Linked DNA regions of Homo sapiens. The protein of the gene in region 5 interacts with the protein of the main gene of each other region in a pairwise test. Each region holds a gene or a part of one and is shown on either strand. Other genes may lie near its edges. The genes, in order: OOEP, MID2, PRICKLE1, CCDC125, KIF9, ZRANB1 and HMBOX1.

Evidence for each region.
Region 1: the proteins of KIF9 (region 5) and OOEP interact in binary tests that used the Homo sapiens proteins (3 or more experiments, as listed by UniProt).
Region 2: the proteins of KIF9 (region 5) and MID2 interact in binary tests that used the Homo sapiens proteins (3 or more experiments, as listed by UniProt).
Region 3: the proteins of KIF9 (region 5) and PRICKLE1 interact in binary tests that used the Homo sapiens proteins (3 or more experiments, as listed by UniProt).
Region 4: the proteins of KIF9 (region 5) and CCDC125 interact in binary tests that used the Homo sapiens proteins (3 or more experiments, as listed by UniProt).
Region 6: the proteins of KIF9 (region 5) and ZRANB1 interact in binary tests that used the Homo sapiens proteins (3 or more experiments, as listed by UniProt).
Region 7: the proteins of KIF9 (region 5) and HMBOX1 interact in binary tests that used the Homo sapiens proteins (3 or more experiments, as listed by UniProt).

The regions. Positions count from the first base shown.
Region 1 is NC_000006.12:73,368,055-73,371,154, forward strand, and holds OOEP (oocyte-expressed protein homolog), read right to left. Parts: upstream 1,844-3,100; 5' UTR 1,739-1,843; coding exon 1,549-1,738; intron 1,332-1,548; coding exon 1,152-1,331; intron 810-1,151; coding exon 730-809; 3' UTR 501-729; downstream 1-500. UniProt on the Homo sapiens protein: Component of the subcortical maternal complex (SCMC), a multiprotein complex that plays a key role in early embryonic development.
Region 2 is NC_000023.11:107,926,866-107,929,501, forward strand, and holds part of MID2 (probable E3 ubiquitin-protein ligase MID2), read left to right. Parts: coding exon 1-208; 3' UTR 209-2,636. UniProt on the Homo sapiens protein: E3 ubiquitin ligase that plays a role in microtubule stabilization. Mediates the 'Lys-48'-linked polyubiquitination of LRRK2 to drive its localization to microtubules and its proteasomal degradation in neurons.
Region 3 is NC_000012.12:42,471,247-42,474,746, forward strand, and holds part of PRICKLE1 (prickle-like protein 1), read right to left. Parts: intron 1,319-3,500; 5' UTR 1,271-1,318; coding exon 1,139-1,270; intron 1-1,138. UniProt on the Homo sapiens protein: Involved in the planar cell polarity pathway that controls convergent extension during gastrulation and neural tube closure.
Region 4 is NC_000005.10:69,322,802-69,326,301, forward strand, and holds part of CCDC125 (coiled-coil domain-containing protein 125), read right to left. Parts: intron 1,912-3,500; exon of another isoform or gene 1,002-1,911; intron 1-1,001. UniProt on the Homo sapiens protein: May be involved in the regulation of cell migration.
Region 5 is NC_000003.12:47,244,800-47,248,299, forward strand, and holds part of KIF9 (kinesin-like protein KIF9), read right to left. Parts: intron 3,288-3,500; coding exon 3,219-3,287; intron 2,679-3,218; coding exon 2,574-2,678; intron 1,454-2,573; coding exon 1,398-1,453; intron 713-1,397; coding exon 622-712; intron 126-621; coding exon 1-125. UniProt on the Homo sapiens protein: Essential for normal male fertility and for progressive motility of spermatozoa.
Region 6 is NC_000010.11:124,969,623-124,973,122, reverse strand, and holds part of ZRANB1 (ubiquitin thioesterase ZRANB1), read right to left. Parts: intron 1,159-3,500; coding exon 1,005-1,158; intron 1-1,004. UniProt on the Homo sapiens protein: Ubiquitin thioesterase, which specifically hydrolyzes 'Lys-29'-linked and 'Lys-33'-linked diubiquitin. Also cleaves 'Lys-63'-linked chains, but with 40-fold less efficiency compared to 'Lys-29'-linked ones.
Region 7 is NC_000008.11:29,015,895-29,019,394, reverse strand, and holds part of HMBOX1 (homeobox-containing protein 1), read right to left. Parts: intron 636-3,500; coding exon 482-635; exon of another isoform or gene 1-481. UniProt on the Homo sapiens protein: Binds directly to 5'-TTAGGG-3' repeats in telomeric DNA. Associates with the telomerase complex at sites of active telomere processing and positively regulates telomere elongation.

The DNA.
Region 1 (3,100 bases), on a different chromosome or scaffold from region 5:
AATGAACGCTGACCGCCCAGGCTTGCTTCTTGCAACGTCATCCTCTGCCCAATGGATGCCCCACTCCAGGAAAACGCACAGCTGGTGCTCTTCGGGGGATCAATTACCAGCTTCAAAGTGAGAGCCTCAGATAAGCTGCTTTAGTAGTATGTGTGAGCTCATCAGAAATGAAATTTTAAGCCCCACCCCAAAAGTACTGAATCAGAATTCTCTGGAGAAGGAGCCAAGGAAATTGTGTTTTAACAAGCTCCCAAGGTGATTTCTTACAAGCTTTAAAGTTTGAGGACCAATTATGTAAAAACAAAACAGATCACCATTTGTGAGGTTATCTGCCCCTGCATATCCGCTCCCTGTGGGTGAGGGCCTCTCTCTGACCAGAAAATCATAAAAGGATTAGGAGTTTCAAAATGATGGGAATTCAGGAAAAAAAAACAAAAACAAAAACCTACAAAACTATCACCTGCCCACCCTTCATATCAAAACATGAGTGGGAGTCAATCTTTTATAAATTTGCTTTATTATAAGTGTGTGAAGATCTTAATGCTTTTGGCAAAATAGCCATTTCTTTATTAGAATAGTTCAAACTCACTCTTGCAACAAAATAAACCACAATCCATCAAGACACAGGAAAAAGGAATACGGGGATTTAAGAATGCTATACTTGCTTTTCTTCAACTTTAGCAGCAAAAGTTAGAAAGTTAAGATGTTCCCAACAGTAACTATGTTGTCTTAAGCAACAGGATCCTGGGGAGAGTGGGGGTCTGATGCATGGGCCTTCAAGTTCTTCTCAAGGTGTTTCATCTTCTCAGCTGGAAGAGAAGCAGTTGATACTAACCATGGACAGGGACAAGTGTTTGCTGTTTCGAACTACTCCGTGACTGGGAGTTGGGGAGGAGAGAAAGATCTGCGATAGTGCTGTAACCCAGGTGAGGCTGACTTGGGCAGTGATGGGTCTGAATCTATCAGATCTCTGCTGACTTTCCCAAGGTCCTACCCCAGGATCCCCTCCCAACAAACTTCGTACAGCTAGCTCCCTGGGGTCTGGAAACCAAGAAATTTTGAGAAGGTTAAGGGAGGATGGAAGGAAACCGAGCAAGGCCAGTATGGTCACTCGTGGCTTCCTCCACATGCAGGTTCTCAAAGACCCTCACCTCGGGCACGATGTTCTCGGTGAAACCATGCCAGGCACAGGAGCATGCTCTTCACCCGATTCTGTACACGGGGCCGCCCGAAAACGGTGATTTCGACTAGGTTCCCTGAGTCCACTATGTCCACTGTCAGCAGGGCCTGGCTCGTCCACTCCATTTCTGGAATTATGGCTCGGTCTGGGCCTAAACAAGTAAGGAAAAACTCTGAGGGGCTGCACGGTGGCAGGTTAGAAGCTGGATTTGAAGGGAATGTTGGCCAGGGAAGGGAAGAACTGGAAGGTGGGCATCACTGCAACACTCCTGGCTTGCGAATCTGGGAAAGAGACTGTAGAGAGCTGCTCTGCCAAGCCTCTCTCAGACTGGAGGTGGACAGCCCACTAGCACACCTGGGGTCGCTCACCAAAGAGCTCGTCTGCCAGCCATGCCTCTAGGTAGAACACCAAAGGGTCTCTCAGTTCCTGCACCGGAAACCACCAGGGCCGGATGCGAATCTGTGGCGGCGGAAGTGGTAACCTACGCAGCTGCTCCAGGGAGTGGGCCGGAGTCTGTTTGCCCCGCTGGGACTCAGCGGCACCAGCATCATCGACCATACTGGGACCAGCAGCCGCGGAGCGCGCTCGAGGCGGCTTTCGCAAGACCTCTTCCAGACCCAGGCGCGAAGCTCGGGCTCTCTTTTACCATATTCGACCCGCTCCGCCCCTTCCGGCGGCGCCTCGCACCGCGTCGGGGTGAGCGGGTGCAAGCGACGCCCCGGCATAGCGGCACCATTGGACACTTCCTGCGCTGCTTCAATCGCCGGGATTGCCTCTTTGACCTTGAACTAGTATTCATTTGGCCTCCTGTTGGGTCTCCAATGCTCTCCTTCGTCATCTCTGCTCGTAAGGTATGCTTAGCCTGAAAGTCCTCTGCCCACCTTATAGCTGATTAACAGTGTGAGTTTGAATTGACGACTCTATTAATAGACTGGGAATCACCTTTGCTGGCTAGGTTAAGGTTTCATCGTTGCCTCCCAAAGATAGGTATATCGGACCCAGGGCAGGCTTGTTCAATGTGTCAGTTTTCTCTGTTCTGCTCCCTGTTGTTATCTTCTGACTCTCCGGATGGTTACCATTTTTAAATCATTCAAGCAAGTGTGTCATGTTTTAAACAACACGTCAGAGGTGGTCTTATAGAACATGTAGCAAGTTAGACAATTTTCCTTTATTTCCAGTATCCTAAGACAACCATTATCGATGGACATTTTTTCCCAATGTTTGTAATTTTAATTAAAAATTTGGATTATGAAAGGTTTCACACATCCAAAAAAGTAATATAACACGGCCATGTACCCTCCCCGAGTTTAACAGATGTTGACATTTCCCCACATTTGCCTCACTCCTCTGTTTTTAAAACAGATATTACTCAAGCATCTTTCCTTTCCTTCTCCAGAGGAAATCATCCTGAAGCTAGTGTGTATATATCATCCCCATGCATGTCCTTACACATTTTCTACTATATTTGTAGAAATATTGTTTGGTTGTTTCAGAATAGTATCTGCTGAATATACTATTTCGTTCTTACAATTAACTATGTGTTTGTTTTAAAACTTCTATTTTTCTGAGATAGGTCTCACTCTCTTGCCTAGGCTGGAATGCAGTGGCACGATCTCGGTTCACTGAAGCCTCGACCTCCCAGGCCTAAGCGACCCTCCCATCTCAGCCTCCTGAGTAGCTGAGACCACAGGCACCTGCCACCACACCCAGCTATTTTCCAGCTCTTTTTGTTGTTGTTGTTGTTTGTCTGTTTGTAGAGACAGGGTCCCACTATGTTGCCAGGCTGGTTTTGAACTCCTAGGCTCAAGCAGTCCTCTCACTTTGGCCTCCCAAAGTGCTGGGATTACAGGCGTGAGCCACCACAGCCAGCATAGAAGAAAAAACTCAAAATAGTGAAAAGCATGTTCCAGACTCCACATG
Region 2 (2,636 bases), on a different chromosome or scaffold from region 5:
CTATGACCCAGCTAACTCTCTCCATCTTCATACTTTTGATGTGACCTTCATTCTTCCAGTTTGTCCAACATTTACAATCTGGAACAAATCCCTAATGATCCTGTCTGGCTTGCCTGCCCCAGATTTTATTGATTACCCTGAGCGGCAGGAATGCAACTGCAGGCCTCAAGAATCCCCTTATGTTTCTGGGATGAAAACCTGTCATTAAGTTTCAGGAGAGTATATAATTCACTGGCTCTCTAGTTCAGCAGTTCTTCCCCTCCTACACCTAAGTTAGCGTTCAATATACGAGACACAAAATAAAGTTTGTTTGAAGCATCCAAAATAACTAGATATTGCAGATTTAATTTTTGTGCATTAAAGCTTGTATTTGAATTAATTTATTGAGTTTTTCAGAACAAATTATCTGAGTAGTCTGCGTTCAAGCCATTGGAGAAAAATTTAGAAAATGCCTCTGTTGTCATTGGAGAATTAAAAATTCCCAATGATTTAAGAATATAAATTATATTGGAAGCAATTAGGGTAATTCTAGTTAAATAATGTGGAAAGGTGCCCTGAATAAGGAGCTAGCAAGCCAGAGCGGGGGGTGGTCAGCCTTTCTAGTACTGGCCAGTTTGGCCATGTAGAATTTTGAACAGTGTCAAATTATCACATATTATATTTTACTTTTGATGAAAACCTATCATCAAGGGTTTGTTAGGAAACCATGAATGTGTATATGTAATATATAAAGTGAACATATATGTACTTTATATATATTCACTTGTGTATGTATGTTTATGCATATTCACTTTATATATTACATATACACAAAAAACTTTTTTTTCCAAACACCACCTCGAACTAGAACAAAAAACTTTTTAATTTGCTAATTTGAGTGAGAAATATACTGGAAGGGAAAATAAGTTACACCATCCATTTTTGTCCCCTAAAGGAAACATCAAAATCAATCAACATTTATTTCCTCCCTCTATCCATCATTGCCTTCCTCCCTCCTGTCACGCACACATACACATGCAACCATGACACAGATAATGGGAAGAGCTTTATTGGATTAGCAGAGATTTACAGACAAGATTGCACAAGAGATGCTGTTGCTGGATAGAAAATTGATCAGGTAGAAGTGATGCTACCTACTTGAGGATGGCCATCTGAATTGTTAAAAATTCTGTCATAGACTATTAAAAAAAAAGTTTTACTACTCCCAAGTACACACAGTTATGAGAATTAGGCTTTTAAAAAGTTGCACAGTGAAGGCTCTTTAGGAACCTACTTTACTTAATCAGTAAAAATTGAGTATTATTGATGCACCAACTATTCCCATATAAATGTACTTGCTTTTTCAGATAAAACACTTCTGAAGTGCTCAAGAATGTCTGAAAACAGTTTGTTTTCTTAAATAGGATAAATAATCATTCCTTTTGCAATCTTGTTTACAGTATTCATTCTCTTAGCCAATCCCTCCACGCAAATGGAGACAAACTTCATCCCAGTCCTAACCAGTATAGTTGAAGGGAATGGAGCCTTGTAGTCTATGATTTTTTTTTTTAAATTTCCATCGAAGGGATTGGGGATGTCAGAGAGCCAGAGCTTTCCCCTTTCCAGGAGCTAAGTTGGCTTCGGAAGTCTTCTGGGATTTGTGAAAATATTACTGTTGTAAAATTACAAAGTGGTAGCCATAACAACTCCCTCAGATTGGAGACTTGAAATGTCAAAACTCCCCTCTTCCTTTCCCCTAGTTTGGTGGATGCTCATTTATTAATTCATTCAATAAACTATTAGATGCCAGGTACCAAACTACTGCCATGGGAGTGCACATATTAACAAAATGCTCTACCTGCTGCCAAATGGCTTACTATTCTGTGGAAGAAACAAAGTATATAATCCTCCCCAATAACAGTTATGTATTGTTTGTTCACTTAATGTGGAAGGCAAGACTGATGCAGACACACAAGGAAGGCTCAAAAATATAAATCTAGCAGCAATGTCATCTTTTTTGATTTTAAATACCATATGTGCTTACTGCTAATCAGGAAATGAACAACCTCAGTAAAATTCATCAGTGCTGGTAAATAGTTTGCTGTAGTGGAAAGCTCATAACCTTTGGATTCAAATGATCCTAGTTTCTGTACCATTTATTAGCGTTGTGACCTAGGACAAGTACCTCACTTCTCTGAGCCTGTTTCCTCCTCTGTAAAATAATGTCTACTTCACAAGGCTGTTTCAAAGGTTAAAAAAGATAGCATATGTAAACTGTCTTAGCTCAGCGCTTGACATTTCCTAAGTGTGCCATAAATATTAATCTCTTTCCTTACTCCCAGCTCCAATACAGCGTAACAGTGCTTTAAAATGTATGTCCTTCATTTCTCCTTCATTTCTCAGTCACCTTTGTCTCTTCCCTAGGGCATATCCCCAAATTCTTAAACAAAAAAAAATGATTTTTTTCCCCTTCATCAAACTTTTCACTGGCTCCCTTAGCACCCAGTAGAAGGTCCCAACTCCTTACAGAGTCTGGGTTTTCATGTCCCTGTTTGCTTACACAGCTTAATCTTTTGCCACTTTCCCCCTCACATTGATTAAGGTAGCCAAGTTTAACTATTTACACAACTATTCACACAAGTTATTCTCTGGGCCTG
Region 3 (3,500 bases), on a different chromosome or scaffold from region 5:
GAAAGGAAAACTTAATTTCTGCTTGTTTGTTTTTCTGATGTCTTTAAAGGAACATCCCTTAATGAGTACTGCAAAGGATACTGCAGAGCTGAGAAGGAATAAAAGAAAAAAAAGACAGGAGACAGGAATTTAGGGCCTGTCTACTTCAATACCTTAGTACCACACAAAACCTACCCACTCTAAGTTGTAAGAAGGGATTCTCTCTAAGTAGTTTGTCAAAATATTGCTTTTCTAACTGCTTCACCAGCACTCCACCCTCTCCCCATTCTATCAGCTCTAGAAGCTTTTTACAGTTATAAACACTTACTGAATATCAGCTACATGCGTGCCAGGTACTGTGCTATGCCATGGATAAATAAGGATACCCTATTCTCATAAAACGTCCCACCCTACAGGAAACAGAACCCTAACATCAGAAGCAAAGCAACCACATACCCCACTGTCAACTTTATTTTCAAATGATGCCTCTGCTCTTTTAATAATATCGCCAGTGATTTTCAACAAGTTAATCATTGTAAAGATATTGGGAAAATTAAATAGGCATATGGAATGTTCTCATCTTCCCTAAAATAACAATACAAACAAAGCATAAAATTAACTCTTTAATTTTTTTTCCAATCCCTGTGGTGTAAGTGACAGGCTCTTTTATATGCAAAGTTATCAAAGGTCAAACGTCTAAGCAGTAACACTTCAGAGGGTTTCTGATAGCTCACTATCTCGCTTCCAAAGCAAAAGCATTGCTGAGAACTGGCATGGAAACTTTTCTCTTTTCTTTTATTGCCTTTTTGTTGTCACAGAAGTTTTTTAAAAGGGAAATTCCTCTCACTCTCAAGAGGGATTCATCCGAAATACACATAACCAATGCATATGTAGTACTCTGGATTTCATTCATTAGAGCAAAAATGGGATCCTTATGAGGCTTCTGGAACCATGGGTACGACGAGATTGGAAACTTCCATTGAGAAACTAAATATGACCTTCAAAAGTAAAACTTCAAAGCCATACAAAGAAGAATAAGGACTGAGGAGGGTGGTATTCCAGCATCTCAGTGATGTTCTATCCATTTACAAAATAATGTTCTAAAGTCTGAACTCACACTGAAAAACAAAGAGTAAATATAGGATGATGAAGTTCCTACCTGCTCTGGTCTCAGGCCCGGGGGGACCCAGGCGTACTCCTCCAATGCACAGCCAGAGTCATCATCTGATGTGGAACTTCTCTGACAGCCAAAGGCCAGTTTGCTCATCTTGGGCTCCATCTCCAAAGGCATAAAGTTTAAAGCCTGGTTTCTCAGTCACAGGACATCAAACAATGGCTGCTGTGAACAATATAAGAAAAAACAAAGACATCTAAAACCTGAATGCATTTCTCTTACCCCCGACCCAGAGCTTTTATTGAATGCTGTTAACAGACAGCTGGGCCCAGAGAAAGTAACCAAATTACTACTGTCACCACCCCCAGGCCCCAGGCCCCCTGAAATTTAAAATTTAGAGCTATATAATTTGGTAGTAGTCTCTTTGCCAGCTCAGAATTTCAGAACATGCCACCAAAGCTAGTTTATTTCCAGGAGCCTTTAAAAGGTGCCTCTCTACAGTCGATTCCTTAGAAAAGTTCTCAAGAAAGTTGATGTGTTGACTTTCTAACTTGCCCACAAATCCTTGTGACATACTGTAAGTTGTAGAAAGAAGTGTCGGGGTCAGGCTACCTGCCTTGCCCACTACTATGCCCCAGGAAAAATGGCTCAAGACCCCACTCGGCACCCCTGTATTTCCTAAGCAATTTTTCCAACTGAGGCAGTGCTGCCTCCTGAGAGTGGGTCCACTCAGCCAAACTGCTTAGGTTTCAGATTTCTAATTATGTTTTGTAAGACACTAAACTGAGTTTACACACAAAATAGAAATAGCACAATTAAATCCTTATACTGCACATTAAATCCTCAAGCCTTTACTAAGGGCTAAAGTCAGTCAGACATTCATCAGTGAGTTCCTTCAACAAACAGTCACTGAATACAGTACTATGTGAAAATAAAATCCAGCTTGGTGACTGTTAATGTTTAATTGCATCATAAGCAGGCATTCGCTGAAAAGTTATGCAGTCAGTGCCTAGTATGTGTGAAATGTCATCAGCCTGCTATGGGCAGAGTAAGATGTAAATCCTCCTCTGAATAAAAAGCCTCCTTGGATGAAGGGCTATAAAAGTGTCAAGACAACATTCCCTGCCCTAGAACCCAGGAACTTTGCTATCACCATTTATGTTCTTTGTATCTTCTGATTATTAAAATCATCCCTCATCCCAGGGCACAAAGAAAAAAATAATAATAGCAGAACTTTCAGAACCAGATGGAGAGATGGAGCTTTTTTATACCTGGGCCTTTCACCCACAAAAAAATGATGTAAAGAAAGAAAATTATAGATAATTATCCCGACCCAATGATTTTAGAGAAAACAAGATTCAGGAAAGTCAAGAGACTTGTCCAAGGTCATATGGCTAAAAGCCAGAGTCTAGTCACACATACACACTGACATGTCAGACTTCCAAAAATTCTTCTGCCTCAATAAACATTCTTCCATCTCAGGAAGGATGTCAAAAAAAAAAAAAAAGTTCTCATTTGCTTAAACAAGTGTAAAAGGCAGTGAAAAGCCATACACTTTCAGCCTGAGACTAAGTCATTTTTCAGTGACTATCTCAATTCAACTCTAAATACTGAGTGTTGGAAAATACTACCTATTAAAACCTTTGATTATTGGCCGGGCGTGGTAGCTCACACCTGTAATCCCAGCACTTTGGGAGGCTGAGGCAGATGGATCACAAGGTCAGGAGTTTGAGCTCAGCCTGGCCAACATGGTGAAACCCCGTCTCTACTAAAAACACAAAAATTAGCCAGGCGTGGTGGTGGGTGCCTGTAATCCCAGCTACTCGGGAGGCTGAGGCAGGAGAATCGCTTGAAACCGGGAGGCGGAGGTTGCAGTGAGCTGAGATTGCACCCCTGGACTCCAGCCTGGGCGACAGAGCGAGACTCCGTCTCGAAAAAAATAAAATAAAATAAAACTTGATTAAAATTTATGGTTTTTCTTTTATAAATGATAGGACATTGAGAAAATTAACATTGTAACAGTTCATAAATGAAGGGCAAGCACCTCATAGCTACAATCTTTATTAGCAGTAGGAGCAATGCCACACATATATTATTCCAACTAATAAATTTAACTTTCATTCACCCTGAACAAGAAGTGAAGATGACCTCATTTCCTACACTACCATTGGGAGGTTATGACCTTTTAAACAAGGCATCATTTCACACAGGTGCGACTCATTCATGTCTTGACTAAGGAAAGGCTTTCTAAACATAGGCGTATTCCTCTGACTCCTCAATAAAAAAGGATGTGTTAATGAGTCAGAAAATGTCTTGGATATTTTGAAAAAACCACTCCCACATGTCAAAGGAAGAGAACCAGAGGTTAAGAATTTAATTAGTAACTCTAAAACTCCTACCAGGAGAA
Region 4 (3,500 bases), on a different chromosome or scaffold from region 5:
ACACCCGCCTTGGCCTCCCAAAGTGCTGGGATTACAGGTGTGAGCCACCGCACTGGCCCAAAAATTTTTTTTTAAATTAGCTGGTGGCACACGCCTACTCAGGAGGCTGAGGTGGGAGAATTGCTTGGCTCTGGGAGGTGGAGGCTGCAGTGAGCCATAACTGTGCCTCCACACTCCAGCTTAAGCTACAGAGCAACATTCTATCTCAAAAAATTTTTTGTTCGGCCTGGCGCGGTGGCTCATGCCTGTAATCCCAGCACTTTCAGAGGCCAAGGTGGGCGGATCACTTGAGGTCAGAAGTTCAAGACCAGTCTGGCCAATATGGTGAAACCCCATCTCTACTAAAAATACAAAAAAATTAGCCGGGCATTGTGGCGTGTGCCTGTAATCTCAGCTACTCAGGAGGCTGAGGCAGAAGAATTGCTTGAACCTGGGAGACAGAGGTTGCAGTAAGCCGAGATTGCGCCACTGCACTCTAGCCTGGGCGACAGAGAAAGACTCCATCTCAAAAAAAAAAAAATTTGTTAATTTGTTAATCAAAAAGGTATCATATTTGCATATTATCTAGGCACATCCTCCTGTGTACTTTATATATATTTTCAATTGTCTCTAAATTACGTATAATATCTAATACACTGCCTATACATCACTTCATTCCCGTGGATTTAACCTCGTACTCTGAGTCCTGCAAATTCGTCTTTGTTTTTGGAACACTGTGGATTTTTTTTTCCAAATATTTTCAACCCTGGTTGGTTGAATCAACCAATGTGGAACTCACGGAGCTCCTATCCCACCTCAGGCCACGCACAGCAGGTTTGGTTAGACTGTACTTGCTTTTAGGGCAGAAAAACAAAACCGGCACCCTAGCAGGACTCCACAGCAGATACAGAGGAGTTATGCCTGCCTTTCTTCCCAGCAGAAAACTTCTCCTGGCAAAAATGCCTACAGATCAACTAGTATCACTGAGCCCTCCCCATGTGGAGACCACCCTAGTCACCTACCTGGTGACAGTGAAGCAGCCGGGAGAAGCAGAAATGCTCAACCTTGTGCCTCCAGGACAGAGTGCAGTTAAGAGGGACTTTCACCACCAGGCATTTCAAAACAGCTGCTTTGCTATAGCTATTTAGAAATATTTCATCCTTCTCTCAAGGCTCATTAAAAAAAAAAGTGGGGTGTGGGGGTATAAACATGTCTAACATTTTTCTCTAAATATCCTGCTGTTTAAGTAGTTGCTTCCAAAACTTCGAAAGACATTTAATCTCAGTCTTGCATTTGTTGTGGAGATCTCTCTATTCTTCCACTATTAAACCTTATGTAGACACCAAATAAATCTGACCATGTATTAAGGAATTTCTGTCATTTTTAGGATCAAAATGCCATATATTTTCAATGTTAAAAACAAATACCCTTAAAAGATTTGAACAGATATGTCATCAAAGAAGATACATGGATGGAAAGATGCTCAGCATCATTAGTTATCAGGCAATTATAACTTAAACCCCAGTGAGATTCCACCTCACCGCACTGACAATTCCAAGTGCTGCTGAGGATGTGGAGTAACTGAAACTCTCATACATTGGTGATGTGAGTAAAACATGGTACAACCACTGTGGAAAACAATTTGATAGCTTCTTACAAACATGTGACCTGGCAACTGCATTCTTCAGGATTTACTCAAGAGAAACAGAACCCCATGTCCGTACAAAGATGTGTGCATGAATATTCATACATCACTCAATTTGTCAAAAATTGGAAACAACCCAAGTGTCCATCTGCAGTAAAACAAAGAAACTGTGGTCTGTCCATACAACAGAATATATTTGTCAGTAAAGAACAACGCATTTCTGACATATGCATTACACATGCAATGCATTTCCGATATATGCAATGAATTTCCCAGACATTACGCTAACAAAAAAGCACATACTAGGCCGGATGTGGTGGCTCCCACCTGTAATCCCAGCATTTTGGGAGGCTGAGGTGTGAGAATCACTTGAGGCCAGGAGTTCGAAACCAGCCTGGGCAACATAGCGAGATCCCCATCACTAATTAAAACAATAAATAAATAAACAACAGCACATACTGTATGAAATACTGGGAAAACTAACACACAATGATGGTAAACAAATTAATGGTTGCTTGGCATTGGAGAAATGACCACAAAGGGCATGAGGGAAGTTTTCTGGGGTAATGGAAAACTTCTATATCTTCACCACAGTGGCCACTTATCAAAACTCATTAGGCTGGGTGTGGTGGTTCATGCCTGCATCTCAGCAGTTTGGGAAGCCAAGGTGGGCGGATCACGTGAGGTCAGGAATTCAAGACCTGCCTGGCCAACATGGTGAAACCCCATCTCTACTAAAAAATACAAAAAATTAGCCAGGTGTGGTGGTGCATGCCTGTAGTCCCAGCTACTTGGGAGGCTGAGGCAGGAGAATGGCTTGAACCCGGGAGGCAGGGGTTGCAGTGAGCCGAGCTTGCACCACTGCACTACAGCCTGGGCAACAGAGTGAGATTCTGTCTCAAAAAAAAAAAAAAAAAAGATGTAATAATACCTAGCACTTGTTGCCTGCTTTCCATGTGCTAGACAGTTTTAAGTGCCTTAGATTATATTTATTCTTTACAAACACTCTGCAAGAAAATACCATTATTAAGTACGAAAATTAAACTGAAGCAGACAGAGACTGAGTAACACAGTCAACCAGAAGTGGAGATGGATTTTTTTTAAGAGACAGGGTCTCGGGCTGGGCACAGTGGCTCACGTCTGTAATCCCAGCTCTTTGGAAGGTCGAGGTGGGCGGATCACGAGGTCAAGAGTTTAGGACCAGCCTGGCCAACATGGTGAAACCTCATCTCTACTAAAAATACAAAAATTAGCCAGGTGTGGTGGCAGGTGCCTGTAATCCTAGCTATTCGGGAGGCTGAGGCAGGAGAATCACTTGAAACCAGAAGGTGGATGTTGCGGTGAGCCAAGATCGTGTCACTGCACTCCAACCTGGGTGAAAAAGCAAAACCCTCTGTCTCAAAAAAAAAAAAAAAAAAAAAAAAAAGAGAGACAGCATCTCACTCTGTTGCTCATTGCTTAGGCTGAAGTGCAGTGATGGCATCCACAGCTCACTGCAGCCTCGACCTCTTAGGCTCAAGTGATTCTCCCACCTCAGTCTCCAAAGTAGCTGGGACTACAGATGTGTACCACCTTGCCAGGCTAATTTTTAATTCATTTTGTAGAAACAGGGTCTCGGGCCAGCCAGTCTTGAACTTTTGACCTCACGGGATCCTTCCACCTCAGCCTCCCAAAGTCCTGGGATTACAGGCATGAGCTACCACCCCTGGCCCAGAGACAGATTTTTAATCCAGATATCTGATGTCAGAGCCAACACTCTTAGCCACTGTTTTGTATTATTTGGAGAATTTCAATGAAATTAACATCAGAGTATACCAAGTTTCTATTATTTATGACTTCAAATAGAACTTAAAGTAAAAGTCTAAAATATCTAGTT
Region 5 (3,500 bases):
TCTTTGAATGTCTTCTTGGACTTGGCTTTCTTCCCAGGTTTGGTAGAGAAAGGGGCGACTCCGAGTCCAAAGTTTTGTCCTTCAGGCTCACCCACTAGGTGGCCATCAACATCCACAAGCCCCGCCTACATAGAGAGGCCAGCCAAAGGTCTGTGAGTTAGATTAAGGGCTTGGACCCCTTGGGGACCCACATGTATATGGCCCAAGGCTCAGGGTGGACATGTTCACCATACACACCAAGGTTTGACAGCTGCTGATGCCAGCCTCAGGCTGTCCCCTGTAGAGCGGTCCCTGACCACTCTGCCAAATGTCCACTTTCCACATGCACCCCCTCACCAGTATGGCACCTCATTCCATACTCTGGGGATCTTAAAGCTTATTTCCAACCTAATTCCAGGAAATCGTCTTTAATATTATTATCCATGTCTCTACCTTATGGAAATTATTTTTAATTCAAAAGTGGTTTACTCTTAACACAGGTCACCTGTGTTCATTCTGGTGTTACCTTTATCTGTTGCAATCCTAGCTCTGGTTTAATGCATTAATACTTGCTGGCTCTGCAAAGGTCTGAGGATGGGAAATCTGAGGTGAGTGCTGTCGGCAAGTAGCAACTATGCTTACCTTCTGGATAGCAGAAATGGCTGCAAAGTCATTCCTGTCAATGAGGGTGTACTTCCTGCGCAAAGTGGACTCCACTTCCTGTTCCTGTTGGCTTGGGAGACAGCAAGAGAGAACAGCTTGTACCTGGGGCCATGCTGAATCCACTGGGGCAAGAACCAAGTACTGGGGTTAAAAGTCATATGGGTGAGGCCCCTTGTGTGGGGCCACACCTTCATCATGAACCAGACCAGACAAAAGGACAAAGGACTCACTTCCCCCTGCCCCATTGCATATACCCACTGTCCGACCCCCATACCCACAAGGGCTACCTTATGTCATGTGTGTCTGCTCCAAGATGACACTTGATAAGGACCGTAAGCTTCACTTGGGACCATGTGGGGTTCTGTCTTAGGTTCTGTCTCTAAGAGGCCACTTGGAATCACATGACCAGCTTTAGTGACACCACCTAGCATAAGCTGCTCAGACTATGGGTATGTTTGCACCCAAATAAACCACAAATGCCTCCTGAGGTGGGAGTGTGTGTTGCAATATTCACAAGGTGAATATTCACAATGCCCTGCTCTGGGCACTCTCAGAGCTGGCACTCCATAAACACCTCCTGTCCAATTAATGAACTCACTGAATATCCACCAGGGACCCAGGCATGCCCCCAAGGACTCTGATTTGGCTCTTCATCCACAAGCAAGAAGAGGAGCTCTTGGAGGCAAGTGCCCAGATGGCAGGAGATGAAAATGGCAGCCTGATGTAGGAATGAGGTAGGGGTGGGGGTCTCTCACCTCAGAACCACCCGGAACTGGTTGAACACCTCCTTGATCTGTCTAAGGCTGATTATCTGGAGGGAAGACAGCAAGGCAGAGGTTAGACCAAGGGCACCTCGAGGGACCAGGGGGCATCTATGTTAGTAGAGAAATCAAGACCCCTTGGCTGACCCCTGGACCATCTGTCTCGAGAAGAGGACGTGTGCACACAGCCTCTCAGCGAAGTGGCAGCCAAGCCCTCCTCCAGAGCAGAGAAACACCTGATTAATAATTTTAAAACTAAGTATTTGCTGAGGCTATAAAAACCACCTTTTCGAAGTGGAGACCTCTATAAAATGAAATGATTCTATACCTTGAAAATACCTTCTAAAGGTTTTTTTTTTTTTTTTAATAAAATGTACTTCTCAGCTTTCTCTTACTTCCAAAAGGTTCTGCCTGCTGTCTTCAGATGGAGCCCATTTATGGTCCTGTCTGCATGGGCACAGACACACACACGAGGCTGGAGGAAGGTTACTGGCCTCCCCCCAGCCTAAAGCCCACAGCATTCCCCTTGATCAAGGGTTAATTTGGGACTGCCCCTCCTGTGAAGGCCAGAAGAGTCCATCCCTTAGTTGTCCCAGGCCTGCTTCTCGGAGCTGCCCACAGTAACAGCCAGGGGGGTCTGCCCATGTCTCCAAGAAGAGGGGTTTGATGGACTGCACTGTGAAAACAGGATGCAGCCTTCCCCCTGAGGACCCTTCCTTGTGGGGTGGTTTCCCCCTCCTTGGCCCACTCCAACATGGGCCCTGGGGTCTACCTTGTAGACAACCAGCATGACCACCATCCTTCATCAGCTTCATTCTGCGGACACAGTCAAGCACCCCAGGTGCAGCAGCTCAGTTAATCCCCACTCTGTTTCCCTCCCCACTAGGCAGGTGAGGCCACTGAAGTACACGAGGTTGAGTATTTTGCCAAGGTCACTCAGCAAAGAGGCAGCTGAGCTGGGATTCAATCCTAGAAAGCCTGGCTCTAGGGCCTGTGCTTGTGCCCCTGAGATGAGCTGAAGGGACCCTGACATCAAGAGTCCAGCACCACCCTCCACCCACTGCACCCATTCACATGAGGCTCTGAGGCCAGCAGAGCATGCGTTGGGGTGTGCCCAGGACTGGGAGGCCCAGGCTGGCTGAGCATAGTGGTCACAGAGGGGTTCCTTACGTCGATCTCGTCCAGTGTCCCCTCCAGGTACCTCCGCACCTGGGAGTTGATCTCAGCAATCTGGATTTCATCCATGGGGTCATAGGTCACAAAGGTGCGGTTGGTCTTGAAGGAGGATGAAGAACATGTGGATAAGCAACAAGAACCTGAGCCCACAGGGGAGTGGCAGGGGCCATTCTGAGAGGCAAAGTGGGGAGGCTGGGCACAGGCCCTGGCTGCCCAAGCTGGCTCCTTCCCTTCATCATCGGGTCCTGCCAGAGGGCCTGACACAACAGGCCAGGTGCTTGGGTCAGAGAGGGATAATGGGGTCGGGGAGGAAAGGAAAGACCCTCAGACATGGGTCCTGCTACTCCAGACAGAGGCTCTGCTGGCTGAGTCCCAGCAGACTCTGCAGCATGAGAAAGGCGAGGACGGGAGGCATGCGCTGCCTCTGCCTCGAGGCCCCTCAGGACCGTTGGAGGACTCTGCTCCCAACCCCTGTCCTCATGGACCCTTGCTGCTGCCCCTTTCCTGCCACTGAGCCTGCCCCCCAACCCCGCCCACCATTGGCCTTGACCCATGATGCTGTCTGCCCCTAGCCCCAGTCCCTCTAGTCACCCCCTACCCCAGCACCTCTGCCCTCCTTCTTTGCCTCTAGCCTCTTACCAGGCTGTCATGGATAGCCAGCTCCTGCTTGAGTAGTGCTAGTTCCTTCTCCAGGTTCTTGACCATTCTCTGCCGGGAAACATGGTAGGGTGGGGGCCGACAGGAAGGATCATCAGAGAAGCTACCCTGTCTCTTCCACAGCAAAAGTACAATTCCTCATTCTGTGCCCAGACATCCTGGCCATTCCTGGATCCACAGGGTATGCTTTCAGCTTCTGGTGATTCCCTCCCGACTGGTGACTCTTCCCTAACTGGGGTGAGTTTAGGGTCTGGGAGGACCTGA
Region 6 (3,500 bases), on a different chromosome or scaffold from region 5:
GTAAGCTTAAATACTCAGAACAAGTGCATTTCAAATGAAACTTCCTCCAGTTTCAGAAAACTTAGTTACTATCTCCTACAATTTGTAAAAATCCGTTTGTCTGAACATAAAAATTAAAAACACTGAGATCTAGCCTGAGTAATACTGCGAGACTCCATCTCTACAAAAAAATTAAAAATTAGCCAGGGGTGGGTGGCATGTGCCTATAGTCCTAGCTACTCAGGAGGTCAAGGCAGGAGATCACTTGAGCCCAGAAGTTGAAGGCGCAGTAAGCTATGATCACGCCCATTGCACTCTAGCCTGGGCAACAGAGCAAGACCCCGTTTCAATCTAAAAAAAAAAAAAACAGCAACAAAACAAACAGATCTCAGAATCTCAGATGAAAGATTTTAGAAACGTTTGGTGTTTGGTGTATTTATTCAATGCCAACTGACAAAACGCATTCTGGAGGATGTTTTCAACTGTCAATGAATTGAAAAATGAAAAGTTCCTTCACAAACATAGTAGAAATAAATGAGTAAAAAAGGAATGACATATTCAAGAGGATGCAGTGTGTTCAATTCAAATAACCTGACTCTACCCATCAAAAGCTCATGTTCTAATCCCATCTCTTAATACCAGGTAACCAATATAGCTATCTAATTTCAAATAACACACAAGCATGAAAAGGGAAAATTTTTCAAAGGAGATTTTTTTAAAGGATATTCTAAAATAAAACCAAAGAGAAAAATAAAAGAGTACAACAGATTTTTAAAAAATAATCTGAGGTCCACAAAGAAATCCGTTACTATCAACTGCTGTCTTCCTCTCAGATAGCAGACGCATTTCCTAACAAGTAATCCTCTGTATGCTCACTTCCAGCATATATAAGACAGTCAAGTAATTTAAGATGCACATACAGTAGCTATGTTATGTGCTTTCTAACAGAAACATTTTTCACCTACATACACAAATGTAACTATAATAAAATAAAAAAGTCTTTTTACGTTAGATTTTGGAGTTACCTGCTGGCAATGTAAATGTTACAAGGTCAGTCAGAAAATAGCAAGCAAAATCCCCCTTTCTCTGATGAAGAGAGGCAGCTATCTCTCTCCGGATTTGTTCTGTCAGTTCAGGACACACCATTGCTGGAATACACTTTGCTGCTTGTTGAGACACCTTAAATACAAAAGAAACCTTCCTCTCATCTCATGTATCATAAGTGGAAGCAGAAAACAACAGTATTTAAAAGAAATCAGCAAAATTTCCCAATAACTCAAGGTTTTCTTTAATCTTAAAATACACTGGTATTATTTCCTTACCAATGAAAGTATATACCAGAATAAGTTTTCAGTAACAGTCACAAAAATGTTTTATCCTCTGATTCAGTAATTCTCTTTAAGAATTTATCACAAGGAAATACTCAAAGATGCACATAAAAATGTATGGAAAAGGGTGTTGTTCATAGACACATCACAGGAAGAGGAGAGAGGACAGAAAACCTCAGTAGACTAACCATCGTGCACACAATAAAAACATTCTTTAGAAGCAGAGAATCACAGCTGATAAAGGGAAACTGCAAATACTCTTCTCCCACACCACAAGTTTCAAGTACCCTAACTTGGACTTAAAAAAAGCACGGTATTTAAAGGGTTAGTTCCCACTGACCTCAAGCCCTTTCTTCCTCTCCATTTGTTACCACTCTTGAGTTTTTAAAAAAGCATTTGGCATCTGCAAGTTTAAACACAGACTGCCAACCTCTGAAGCTCAGCCTGACAGGAGTGAGATGGGAGCACTACTGCACAGGCCTCTAAGCAAGAAAACAACAAACCAAAGAAGGCTAGAACTTTCTTTTGTTATTTTTTTATTCTTTTTAAAATGCTAAATAGCAACAAATGTTGCAAAGATTTAATTTAACCTCACATTTCAGTCATATCTAGTTTGTGGAGCTAAATAAAAATACATACACAGAATTCTAAAATCACAGTTGAGCATCTGCGAGTAACAAACAGAATTCAAGGCCAGGCACAATGGCTCACGCCTGTGATCCCACCAACTCTGGGAGGCCGAGGCGGGTGGATTGCTTCGGCTCAGCAGTTTGAGACCAGCCTGGCCAACATGATGAAACCCTGTCTCTACTAAAAATACTACTACAAAAATTAGCTGTAGTCTCAGCTATTTGGAAGGCTGAGGCATGAGAATCACTTGAACCCGGGAGGAGGAAGTTGAAATGAGCTGAGAACGCGCCACTGCACTCCAGCCAGGGTGACAGAGAGAGACTCTGCCAAAAAAAAAAAAAAAAAAAAAAAACCCCAAAGAGAATACCGTGGGAACCCACAGTGAGCCTGTTCCCTGATGTCACCAACCTGGACGATTATCCCAAAGGTAGCCTTCCAGCCACAGTGGGGTGTGAAGCAACAGGTCTTCCAGCCCCTTCTTCTTCTTCTCAAAGAGTAAGGTTTAATGATAATGTTATCTACATCATATATGCAGACAACTAACTGCTATTGCTATTAAAGAAATAATATTTCAAAAACCCTGCATACCCAGCACAGTTACCTGACTCCCTATTCTGAAACTGCAGCTTGGTGCAGTGGCTCACACCTGTAATCCCAGCACTGTGTGAGGCCAAGGCAGGAGGATCATTTGAGCTCAGGAATTCAAGACCAGCCTGGGCAACATAATGAAACTCTGCCTCTACAAAAAACCCCAAAATATTAGCTAGGCATTAGTGGCATGCACCAGTAGTCCCAGCTACTGGGGAGGCTGAAAGGTGAGAGGATCACTTGAGCCAGGGAGGTCAAGGCTGCAGTGAGCCATGATCACTCCCCTGGGCAACAGAGAGAAAGTCTGTCTCAAAAGAAAAGAAAAAAATAAAAAATTTAAAAACTCCTACGTGGAAATTCAGTTCAACTAGACTTTATTGGCCAAGATTACCATTAACCATGAAAATTCTCACTATATCTTAACTCCATGAGCCCAACCATTAGTCAACACTCAAACATGGAAAACCAAATATTAAATATTTTCAGAATATAATTGACTATTTCTCAAGTAACATAGTTAAAATGGCTCCCCCAAAGTAAATTCAAAAATAGCTTATTCCCATCAGCTAGCTCTCAGGCCCTTTCCAAAAACCTGGAAAGACCTTTCCAAAAACCACCTGGACTGGACCCTGACTACCACAAACATTCTAAAAGAAACTTAGCCCCCAAACAACCCCTTCCACCACCATCCTTAAGCAGGATGTGCCCCTGAAGCCTGCCACTCACCTTCTCACCTCCTTCAACCTTATGGTTCTCAACCATCTCCGTAGGCTGGGAGTTCTTAACTTAGGGTCCATGATCTTGGGAATGGTCCATGTACTTTAATGGGAATTTGGTTTTAATTCAAGTTAAATCAATTATCCCCAACTTTTTACCTATATTAAAATGTATTTTCTTATATATCACAAATTTAGTTTAGTATTTTGGTAGCTATTACTTCAATACAACTGATTTCCTTTGTAATCTCATTTACTT
Region 7 (3,500 bases), on a different chromosome or scaffold from region 5:
TGGATCAGGTACTGGTGACAGAATGAGAGGATAAATTACTAAAACAAAGTCAAAAATAAGTATTTTTAACCTTTGGGACAAAGCTTACTTAGACCATACTCCTTATTAAAGGAAAGTTAAATCTCAGTAGTCTCCTATACAATTATTCATTATTTTTGATGAAAAGAAGACTTCAAAGAGTTTTTCCAAAATATAATACAAAGATCTGAATTCAAAAAATATTTATTCCAACATTTCTTAAATTACTGGGGACACTATTATAAGTAAAATAAATTGACAGATGCTAACTCCAGCTTTATGAATTCTCAATGCTAAGATGACCTTATTTCTATAATACAGCATTTATGATATTCTAAAGTACTTTTAGAGATAGAACCAAGATACCAAGTTACTTGTTTGAAATGAAAACTGTCCCAGTCTATCCAGAGTTGATGTCTTCCCTAAGTTTGGGAGATCATTCGTAGAAAAAGGAGACACATACCTTTCCATAACAGCCAGGCACTCCTTTCTCCAGGTAAATCGACTCCCTCGTCGCAGTCGGAAAGTACCAGATGTGGCAGAGACTGGGGGAGGCGTTTGTCTCCATTCAGGGTCCTCTATTGGAATGGGGGCTGGTCTCATACTTAGTGTAGCGCCTGAAATAAACAAGACACTTTTAGCAAATATCTTGCAGTTTATTTAAAACAATATAACATCTACTTCCTATGGGACTAGGGAAGTATGGTCTTTGGCTTAGTGACAACTTAATCAATGTATCTTTCTCTGAAAAATTTCTTTTGAAATTCCTGCTTGATAGTTATACTCTTTTTGAACAATATACCTCAGATGTTCAGAATCTTTTACTAACCATTCAAATAAGTTATAAGCTTAAGGAATTTATGCAGGTAGGAGACAAACTTAAAATAACCCTAATTCTTGTAAACTCTTTTCTTTTTTAAAGAGTGAAATACAGCATGAAAGAAAATAAGATGATATTTGATATGCTTTTTGTCTACTAACTAAATCAGGTCTCCATAGGTCTACCTGTTGATGCTATACTAGATTCTGTTACCTCCTGAACATAATAAAATTTCAATGAAAAATATCTATAATTGAGACATTTTACTAATTCAGATTACTCTTTTCTCAAATAGCTTGAACTGCCAATGATGCATTTATTCATTCATTCACTATTTAACAAATCCCTTTCAAGTGGCTTGCTCTAGGCTAGAAGCTAAGAATAAAACCAGGAAAGCAACATTGTCTGTGACCTCCATGAACTTATTTCATAGACTTTCAATGTAACTTGGTATGCTTTCATAGAGTTCAGTCCCTGGCTACCCCACTCTTCTTTCACTCCTTACACTGTTAAATTCATCTTCCCAAAACATAATTATGATCATATCGGTCTTCTAATCAAAAACCTTCAAAAAATTCTCTCTGCCTGTAGTTTAATTCAAATGCTTAACACAGGTGTAGAAAGACATGTTAGAACATGTAGGTTTATGCAATATTAATAAATATGTTAATTCTATGTTAATGATATTAATATTTATTTCTTCCTAATAGAATTAATACTCTCTTTATTGTACCTTGCAAATAATACCATGGATAGCATTTCTACTTCAAGACTTACAGATCTATTGTAGATCCCCTTCTTAATAGCTACATCTTTAGATGTATTCTCTTACACAGATGTCCAAAATGTTAATCAATCCTGATTTTGCTTTTCAAACCTATTGTCCTGCAGTCTTTCCCATCTCAGTAAATAGATACCCACTCTTCAAACCACTCAGCTCAAAATTCTCAAATTAATCTTTCACTTCTCTAATTATCCCACCTATACATAACTAATTCATAGGCAAGTTCATTTTATCTTCAAAATATTTCCAGTATCAGATCAATTTTTATTCCTTGCACTGCTACTACTTTTAGAACACGTCAGCATCATCTTTCACAATCATGGTTTCCTGGGACAAGTTTCAAAGACGGCTCCTCACAGTAAGTCATACCTCTGGCTAATCATGCCCTTGAATCTGGGCCAGTCCTGTGACAGGTTGTTGAGCAAGAAAATCTAAACAATTCAAGGCTAGGTTATAAGATGCTTTGAAATTTCTGCCTAGGTCTCCTAAAATGCTGGCTCTGGGGGAAACCAGAGGCCATATAAGAAGTCTGACTAACCTGAGACTATGATGTTGTAAGGAAGCCCAGGATAGCCATGTGGAGAGGCTACATGGAGTGAAAGATGCTCTGACAGTCCCCAGGGTCTTCTGCCAACTCCACCCAGGTGCCAGCATTTGAGAGAAAATGCCATCTTGGACACTGTAGCCACAGCAAATGCCACATGGAGAAGTGCAGAAACCAGGTGATAGACAGAAACAAGGCCTCAGACATTCAGTCCCAGCACAGGAATGTGGACATCAACCTCCAAGGTCCCTAAGGATCCCTGCCTCCTGGTCTGCACACCTCCGTATAGTCCCTTCCCACACTGCACCATGATTAGGCTGTGCGACCAACAGCATGTGGCAGTGATGGTATGTCACTTCAAGGATCAGAATACAGAAGACACTATGACATCTGTCTTGGATGCTTTCTCTCTTATTCACTCAAGGGAAAACTAGCTGCCGTGTGAGGACACTCAGGCAGTGGATGGTGAGGCCCATGTTGTGAGGAACTGATGTCTCTGACCAACAGGCAGTGAGGACCTGGGACCTGTCCACATCCACATGAGTGAGTTTCCAAGTGGACCATCCAGTCCCAATGACTGCAGCCCAGGCTGACAGCTGGACAGCAACCTCTACAGAACTCTGAGCCAGAAACAACCAGCTAAGCCATTCCTGGATTCCTGATCTATGAAAACTATGAGATAATAAATGCTGGTTGTGTTAAGCTGCTAAATTGTGGATAATTTATTGTATAAGAATAGATAACTAATAAAAATTATCACAATCATCCTCAGTTGTTTATTTCCCTTTATCCCCCAATACACTATTATTAATTATTCAAATGTATAAATTTGGCAGCAAAAAATTTCCCTTTAATATAGAGACTTCACTACTAATAAGAATGAGCATCTTTTCCTGTTTATTGACCATTTATATCTTTTCTTGTGAATTTCTATCTGTTGTTCCTTTTTTAGGGGGTTATTCTTCTTATGGGTGCAGAGAAATCATAGCAATTGCTAGTCATACAGAATGCAATTTTTTTCTGGTCTGTCATTTGTTTTTTATAGTGTGCTTTGTGATCTTAATTTTAATACAGTCAAATTTGTCAGTCTTTTGTATTATGGCCAATGGGCTTGAATATCACTGAGTATCTTTATATCTTTCATTTTGTGTTTCAGCCTTTAATATGTATGTGATTTCTTATAGCATGTGATGGAAAGTAAATATTTAACTACTTAACATTTCTGCTTAAACAAGTAAGTTTGTCATCATATAATGCTTTAGAGATTTACAGCCCACCCTAAAACAGAGTTGGCAAATTATACCCACTGCCTATTTTTGTAAATAAAGTTTTAT